Linked DNA regions of Homo sapiens: regions 1 and 2 are each linked to region 3. The links come from fine-mapping of genetic effects on gene expression. A gene starts in region 3. Each other region holds a variant in brackets. All regions are shown on one strand. Distances are from middle to middle. Region 1 overlaps BANP (BTG3 associated nuclear protein). Region 2 overlaps BANP (BTG3 associated nuclear protein). Region 3 holds the start of BANP (BTG3 associated nuclear protein).

Evidence for each region. PIP is the estimated chance that this variant, and not a neighbour inherited with it, causes the effect.
Region 1: its variant is fine-mapped to the expression of BANP in whole blood (TOPMed, PIP above 0.99).
Region 2: its variant is fine-mapped to the expression of BANP in testis (GTEx, PIP 0.93).

Annotation. Positions count from the first base shown.
Region 1 is chr16:87,982,102-87,984,747 of GRCh38, forward strand. BANP (BTG3 associated nuclear protein) reads left to right here. Exons shown (of 14, transcript NM_001386991.1): 4 at 1,959-2,158. Among named protein-coding and RNA genes, the nearest start is that of BANP, 32 kb to the left of the region's middle. RefSeq lists an enhancer at 1,018-1,610. The variant C/T (reference allele first, on the strand shown) is at 1,552.
Region 2 is chr16:88,021,926-88,024,571 of GRCh38, forward strand. The region is part of intron 7 of BANP (BTG3 associated nuclear protein); the gene reads left to right. Among named protein-coding and RNA genes, the nearest start is that of BANP, 72 kb to the left of the region's middle. The variant A/G (reference allele first, on the strand shown) is at 1,475.
Region 3 is chr16:87,949,924-87,952,569 of GRCh38, forward strand. It overlaps BANP (BTG3 associated nuclear protein), which reads left to right and starts at 1,511. Exons shown (of 14, transcript NM_001386991.1): 1 at 1,511-1,592. RefSeq lists enhancers at 867-1,176, 1,436-2,078 and silencers at 1,367-1,666, 1,677-1,796, 1,827-1,886, 1,907-2,006.

The DNA of each region.
Region 1 (2,646 bases), 32 kb after region 3:
CAATGGATAGGATGTGGCTCTGTTAGTAAACACTGCGTTATCATTCCCTAAATAAAACGCAGCTCTGATTTTATCACAGAACACACATCTGTTGCACATAGAACAGAAATGTATAAAGTGGGCACGGGAGTGGCCCTGCCTTCCTCCTTGTCCCACTGTTGAGAAGAGGGTGGGCCCCCGGTTGAATGTGACTTGCGTAGAGTCGTGTGCGTGGCTCTAGGTTGTTTTATTGGTATATAAGAGTGATTTTTCCCAAAACCCCAGGCAGAATCATTTGTAATTCAGAATTAAAATAACATGGGTGTACTGTGTAAAGAATTTGAGAGCCAAACATTTGATGTTCTCCGGTTGTTGAAAATAGCGGCGTTATCAGTGGCCATTCAGGGATTCAGCCACCTATTGTTGCTTTTCACGACGATGCATGTTTGTCATGCCAGGGACCGTGCCTCCTTTGTAGGTAAGCTGATTGAGTGTCATCACGTGGGCTTGAGTCCACCTGACGCCGTGGCTCCTTCCCTCTCTCACACGCGCCTTCAACAGAGAGTAGTCAGTCAGGGAGGGTGAGTTTCAGTTGGTTTCTTTAGCTCCTGTCTATATCAGCGCCCAGTGGTGAATCTTGCCAGGAGAGGTGGTGACCTGAGAAAAGGCGAGTTGTTGGGCAATATGTGGATTTTCCCTCCTGCAGGGCTGTCCCTGCCACTGTGTACGCCAGGTTTCCATGCCAGCTACATGATGTATGATATCACTGCAGTTTTGATATTCTGCAGATTCCCTTGAGATCAGAAAGGAGAGTGGGCATAAGCAGTGTTGTAGGTCAGCTGCAGTTATTGGGAAAGCCGTTCCGGCTCCAATGTGGGCCGGCCTCCCGCTCCCCTGTCAATGTGGGCCGGCCTCCCGCTCCCCTGTGCTGCGAGCTCCACGGCCCGCTCTCAGTGGCTGCCTCAGTGCCACCCCTGCTGTCTCGAGCCTACCTCCCCCTTCCTTCTGATGTGCACACTTTGGACCCCACGCTCTTTAGGTCATGGGCAGGAAAGGAGAGAGAAAAGACGAAACACGAATTCTGTGCTGTTTTCAGCTGTTGATTCTTAAGGCAGGTGCCAGCCTTCCTGAGTACTAAGCAGGGCTGGTGGGCGCTCCCCCAACCTGTCCCTCCCTAGACCTGAAGGAGTGTCCTTCTGTCTGCTGGTGAGACCTGGTGGAGGGTGTCTCTTTTGCACAGTGCAATTCCTGTGTGATTAACACGTTTCCACGTGTGCTCATGGTGGCTCCTGGCTGGGACGGCAGCTGGGGAAATGAAATTCTTCCCTTTCTGGTTTGTGTGTTTCTCTGTTTCTTGGGTTTGGGGTCCGGCACGTGACTGCTCACTGGTTACTTGGAGTTAGGAATCCGGAGGAGACTCAGCCGGAAAGGTCAGACGTGGAGCCCGGCTTTGCCAACCACTAGGTGGCAAGCTTGCCGCTCAAGAGCCCCACGGGAGCCTCAGGACCAAATCCCAAGTCAGGGCCACAGGGGGTCCCGTCACCTTTTCCCATTAGGCAGCGGGCTGTGAGG[C/T]GAATGTGCGTGGCCTGTGGCTTTTATGCTGTGTCGATGTTAGGTGTAATCTGTTTTTATTGTTGAGAAGATTTGACTAGTTTTATGTGTAAATTTACTGATTAATAATAACATATTAAAGTACATTTTTAAAATTAAATGGGCTTAACCAAGAATTGCAACTGCACGTAGAAGTGAAACCATGACTAAATCATCACATTTGAAACAGGACGTGTGACTCGTGTGTAAAATGTGGACGTGTTACTCACATGTTTCTGGCTCATAGCTCACGGGCTATTTCCAGTGTGGGGATTGTTCTGTCTGAATAGATAGAGTTGAGATCAGGAAATAGCTGTTTGGTGTTTCTTGGGGTTGTCTTCTTACAGTTCAGGAGACCCTTCCTAAAGCCGGTCTTTTTTCACTTCCAGTCATTCCTGTATTCCATCAACCAGACAATCTGCTTGCGGTTGGATAGCATTGAAGCCAAATTGCAAGCCCTGGAGGCTACTTGTAAATCCTTAGAAGAAAAGCTGGATCTGGTCACGAACAAGCAGCACAGCCCCATCCAGGTCCCCATGGTGGCCGGCTCCCCTCTCGGGGCAACCCAGACGTGCAACAAAGTGCGATGGTAAGAACAGACCAGGGTGCCGGGGCCTTCAGGTCACTTGGGGAGAAGCGCGTCACCTCCTCGCCCAGGCCCGCAGCTTAGTGGCTCAGTTTGCTGGAGATGCGCGGTGTCTGCCTCAGCAGTCTCAGCAGTTTCTAACTAAAGCTGACTTTTAGTTAGACCGAAACCGAACACATGGCATCCTGCCAGGATGACCTGAAGTCATCCTCACGTTTCCTTTCCACATAAAGCCGACCCATGCACCTTTTCTTTGGAACTAACCCACCAGATCTTAGAAAATGTACATGTGCTTCTTTCCTTTTTCCTACTCTACCTGGCTAGTCTTTACATATGTTTTTCTTCGTATGTGGTGTTTATACATTTCACATGAATATATCAAACTTTTCATTCAAGTCTGCAGTTTTTATTTTGCTTATTTTTAAAAAGTAGAGTCTAATGAGTCTAATCTTAGAAAGCTGTGTGGTAGTTTGCAAACTGTTTGAGTAGAA
Region 2 (2,646 bases), 72 kb after region 3:
TTTGAAACACACAGTAGGTAAAGTCTCTAAGTACCACCTTCTCAAAATGAGGAAATGAGGTTATTGAAAGAGGGAGAGAGAGAAATTTGCTTTTTGGGGTGTTGGCTTTCTTAGGGTTCCCAAGGATTGGTGGACCCCCCGAATTTGGGCAGCTAACCAAATTTGTGTGTTTTATGCAAAAGTAGCATATTATTGCAACTTGGAAAACCTTGGAGCATTTTCCTAAGGAATGTGCTCTCAGGACAGCAGCATTCGCCTGTTTTCTCTATGAAGAGAAATTGGTTTAGTTCTTAGGATTTCTATCCACGGCTCGCTCACGCCTCTGCTTGGACTCTGCATCCAAGCCGGTGACCCCGGATCTGAGGGCTTTTCTAAAGAATGCTGTCTAAGGCCGTGCCACCCTGAACACACCCGATCTCGTCTGATCTAAAGAATGCTGCTGTGGATGGCCGATCCCCATGAGACCTCCTAGCAGTTACGGAAAGACTGGATTCATTTGCACAAGGTAAAAAGTTATGCTTTCAGGGTTGACCTGTCAGATGATTGTAGTTCTTTTCAAATCATTCACTCCAAGCCCCAGGTGGTGGTACCTAGTGGGAAGCAGCGGGGGCCACTTCACCCACACCTGTCCCTGTGAGTGCAGGTGTGCGACCTGGCCCCGTTGTGTCTTGCAGGGTGCCTCAGGTTCCTGTGGCCGCGGGGACAAAGCTCACAGCCTGGCTGGCTTAGAACACAGGCTTGTGTTCTCGTGCAGGTTTGGAGGCCAGATGCCTGGGATGAAGGTGTGGGCAGGGCCACGCTGCCTGAGAAGGCCCTTTCCCTCTCCCAGCTTCTGGTGGTGGCCGCATCCCTCCAGTCTCTGGCCGCATCCCCCTCGGCTGTCTTCCCCCCATGTCTCCCTCTGTGTCCCTCTCCTTATGAGGACAGTCACTGGATTTGGAGCTCCCTCTCCTGCAGGATGACCTCATTACAACCTAATGAATCACATCTGCAGAGACCCTAGTTCCCAGTCAGGTCACATTCTGGGGTCCTGGACCAGGACGTGAGTTTTGTGGGGACACTGTTCAGCCCAGGACACAGGACACGGGTGGTCAGGTGCTGTCTCTTCTCCAGGTTCTCTGTGAGGTGAAATGGTGAGGCTGCCCTATATGTGTCCTTAAGGCAGAATGTGGACTCCATGCAGGGGTGGGTGTTTGTCTGTGTATCTTGGGACATTGAGCGCCTCACGGTGACTGAGAGCTGGGAGGAAGGTGTGGTCAGTGTGGGCTTCAGGCAGAAAAGTGAGCAGAGCCTCCTTCTCAGCAGGTCACCCAGAAGCTGTGACCTGGAGGTGGTCCTGCAGGTGGCTGTGAGGGGCTCTCTGGCTAACAGACTGAGGACAGGTGTCTCTCCATCATTTTTTCTCATAAAGGAGTGAGTCAGCAGGCTTGAAGAAGGTGGCCGGCTTGGCCTGGAGGCTGGACGTTTGAGGTGC[A/G]TGGGGCGTGAGCTGTGTATGCTTCCCCCGGGAGGGAGCATGTCAGCTGGCTTCCATCGGGCAGAGGCCTTTTGTTTTTCTAGGCAGCGCTGTCACGTCGAGTCTGTAATTTGAAGAAATCAGTTGTTGGCACTCGGTTTTGTGGTGCCTTCCCTTGCACATGAGAGTGTGTTAGCAGGTGGGGCTCTTCATTCCTTTGTGACTGATAAAGCCCCATGCCACCCACCAAGGCACAAGATGACAAGCCCTCCTGGCTCTCTCATCTCGCTTCCCACAGTGCCTCTCATGGCCCCACAGATGGAGAGCTGGGAATCGGCTTATGATTTGAACCACCAGAGTCAGTAACGGGGGTTCTGGAAAGTGGGAAGGCAGCTAACGGTGTAGTGGAGACTCTTTAGCTCTTTGGGGACTGCAGAACAGCTCGCCAGGAAAATAGAGGCGTGCACTGTGGCAGGGATGCTGCCTGGCTGAGCCTGGAAGGCAATCCCGTCCCGGCCTTGAGGGGCCTCGGTTGGTGTAGTGTGGGGATATGGCTGGGGAAAGCAGGGACTGAGGCCAGACAGGGTGTTCTGCTCCCAGGTGACGCCACGCTGTGGGGATCCCGTGAGCCTCAGCAGCCGGATGCCGAGCACTTCTGTTCTCCTTGTGTCCTGGGCGCTGCTGCAGGGGAGACTTCTGCCTCGATTGAAGTCCGACTAGGCCTCCCAGAGCAGGGGCTGCAGGTGCCTTGGGCTGAGGGAGCTCAGGACAGCAGAGTCACGTGTGCGGGGCTGTGCGTGTTCTTCCCGTCTCCCCGAGCACCTCTCATGGGTTCTCAGGATCCAGTGAGGGCCGCTGCTTCTTCACCTGGTGGGCCCAGGAAGCTTGCACTTTAAGGCCGGTGCTCACTCCTAACTAGTAATTGGACTTGGACACATCACTTCTCCTTTTTCTGGCTTTTGCCTCAAAACCAAAGTGATGAGAGTAGTGACATTCCTACTTCATGAGGCTTTTAAAAAAAAATGTCTGTCAAATAACATGAGATCAAATGCTTAAAGTGGAAAATGGCAGTTAAATTCAAGGTGATCTTTTGATCCCATCATGATAGGATTTTTCCCGCTCCCTGTTAAGTGCGGCTGCTCAGTGCTGTCAGAAAAGGTAAAGGAATCCGAGCCCTGAGGGCTGCCCAGACG
Region 3 (2,646 bases):
CTGGAGTCCAGTGGCGCCATCTCGGCTCACTGCAAGCTCCGCCTCCCGGGTTCACGCCATTCTCCCGCCTCAGCCTCCCGAGTAGCTGGGACTACAGGCGCCTGCCACCGCGCCGGGCTAATTTTTTGTATTTTTAGTAGAGACGGGGTTTCACCGTGTTAGCCAGGATGGTCTCGATCTCCTGACCTCGTGATCCACCCGCCTCGGCCTCCCAAAGTGCTGGGATTACAGGCGTGAGCCGCCGCGCCCGGCCAGCATTTTCTTTTTCCCAGTGAAAATAGCTGCCTCGCCCTGTGTTTGGGAGCTCAAAGGCATTCTTGCTCATTGCAAATAATTGAGGAAACAGAGGCGAGTATAAAGAAGAAAATGAAAGGCAAGGTAATCCTAGATTAGCAGAGGGAGATAACCAGGAATGACATTTCTGGGAACTGCGCTATGGTTTGGGAATTTTTTCCTGTGATTACCCACAAACGCACATTTGCACATTTATTCTACGTGTGCACATTCACGTCATCACTTTTTTTTTTTTTGAGACAGAGTCTCGCTCTGTCGCCAGGCTGGAGTGCAGTGGCGCGATCTCGGCTCACTGCAACCTCTGACTCGCGGGCTCAAGCGATTCTCCTGCCTCAGCCTCCCGAGTAGTTGGGATTACAAGGCGCCCGCCACCACGCCCGGCATAATTTTGTATTTTTAGTAGAGACAGGGTTTCGCCATGTTGGCCAGGCTGGTCGCGAACCCTTTACCTCAGGTGTTCCGCCCGCCTTGGCCTCCCACAGGGCTGAGATTACAGGCGTGATCCACCGTGCCCGGCCGCCATCACTTATTTATATTATGTGTTACCTATAGGACTTATCTAAGACCATAATCACTGCCGCGTGTGCTAAGTCCCGCGCGCGTGCACTCAGGCCCCTCTGGATAGACACTGGGGACCCCTGACCACTTATGTCAGGGAAAACGCCACCAAGCGCTCCGGAACCTCAGGGCAGGACCCGCCGCAGCAGCAGGTAGGACCCGCTGGGGGCGCACAGCCCACCTGAGACATCGTAACTACAAGTCCCAGCAACCCTTGGTGCGGGGACAGGACGGGCCACCGGAGTCCGGAGAGACTACAAGTCCCGGCAGGCATGGCCCAGACGCAGGGACTACGAGTCCCCGAATGCATGGCTCCCAGCTTGCGCAGGGCACCCTGGGAGGTGTAGTAGTTGAGGGAGCTAATGCGTATTCATTCCGTCTCAAAGAAGATGCAAATTCCTCAGACCGTCCACTGAGGTGATTGTTCTCACGCAGGCCATGGGCGTGGGCGAAAAACGGGGGGAAAAAAGCCCTGGGAAGCCGGTACCGTCGCGGAAGAAGGCCGCCTGCGCATGCTCACCAGGAGGCCGAGCGGGAAAAGCGCGCGCAGCTGGCCTCACTGCCACAGGGGTGCCCCGCCCCCGGGCCCGCGCGCCCAGTGAGCCTGCGCGGAGGGCGGGGGCCGAGCGTCGCGGGGAGGGGCTCGCGGCGCCTGCGCAGAGCGGCGGCTTCTCTCGCGAGGACGGACGCCATTATCGCATCTCCCCGACAAACACCACGAGAATTCCGCAGCCCACACGGTAATTGCAGCTCCCGCAGCCGGTCGCGCCTCCGCCTCCCCCTTCCCGCGGGGCGAGAGCGAGAGCGAGATCTCCCTCCTCCCTCCTCCTCCCGCCCGCCGGGCCGCCCGCGCCGCAGCCCCGCCGCCGCCAACCGCCCGGGCCGGGCGATCGCCCCCCGGGCCCCGCTCCCCGTCCCCGGCCGCGCCCCGGAAGAGGGGCTCCCGCTTCCTCGCTTCCGCACCCCCGGCCCCACCGCGCCCGGCGTCCGTTGAGCCGCGGCTGCCGCAGCCCGGCCCGGGGGCCTCGCGCTCCCGACCTCTGTCCCGGGCCTCGCCCCGCGGGAAGGACCCGGAGCCACGGCGGGGAGACTGGAAAGGCCTAGAACCGCGCCCGGGCTCCTCTGGGGCCCGAAGTCTCCCAAGGGGGTCGCTCCTGCCAGCCAGGCGGGAGCGACAGGCATCGTTTTTGTGCCTCCTCCGTGGCTGTGGACCGGAGCCCCATAGCCCAGGACTTGCACACGCAAGGGGCGCTCTCGGGGACCGCAGACCTCGGCGACGACCCCAGCCCGTCCCCCGAGGGGCCCCGATGAACGAGGACCTCGGGGTGCCCCCTCCCCAGCACGTTTGTGCGATTTCTGTGATCTAGTCCTTAAGGAAGGTGGCCGTTTTCTTTTTCCCCCCTAGGATGCAGAAAGTAGATGACATTCCATCCACACTGTGTGAGCAAATTGGAGAGATTGCCTTGATAGAGGACTGATGTTTTTCACTGATGAGATGGTAGGGGTTGTCTTGCTATTGGAGAAATACATCATCCCTGAAGAACTGTGAGCAAGTGGAGCGAGTGTGGGCTTTGAAGGGTAGCGAGCTTGCACCCTGACCGGGGAGGGCCCGGGTCACACAGTTGTTGATGTGGAACAGGTAATTGCCCTGTTTGGAGTTGCCTGTTCTGCCCAGGAATGTACTCCAGGGCCTGATGGCGATGCTGGAACTCGCACTACAGTAAATAATTGATAAGAGGAGGCAGTTGTAGGGTTCACTTTTAGCTGGAAGTTCTTAGGGGACAGAAAAATAAC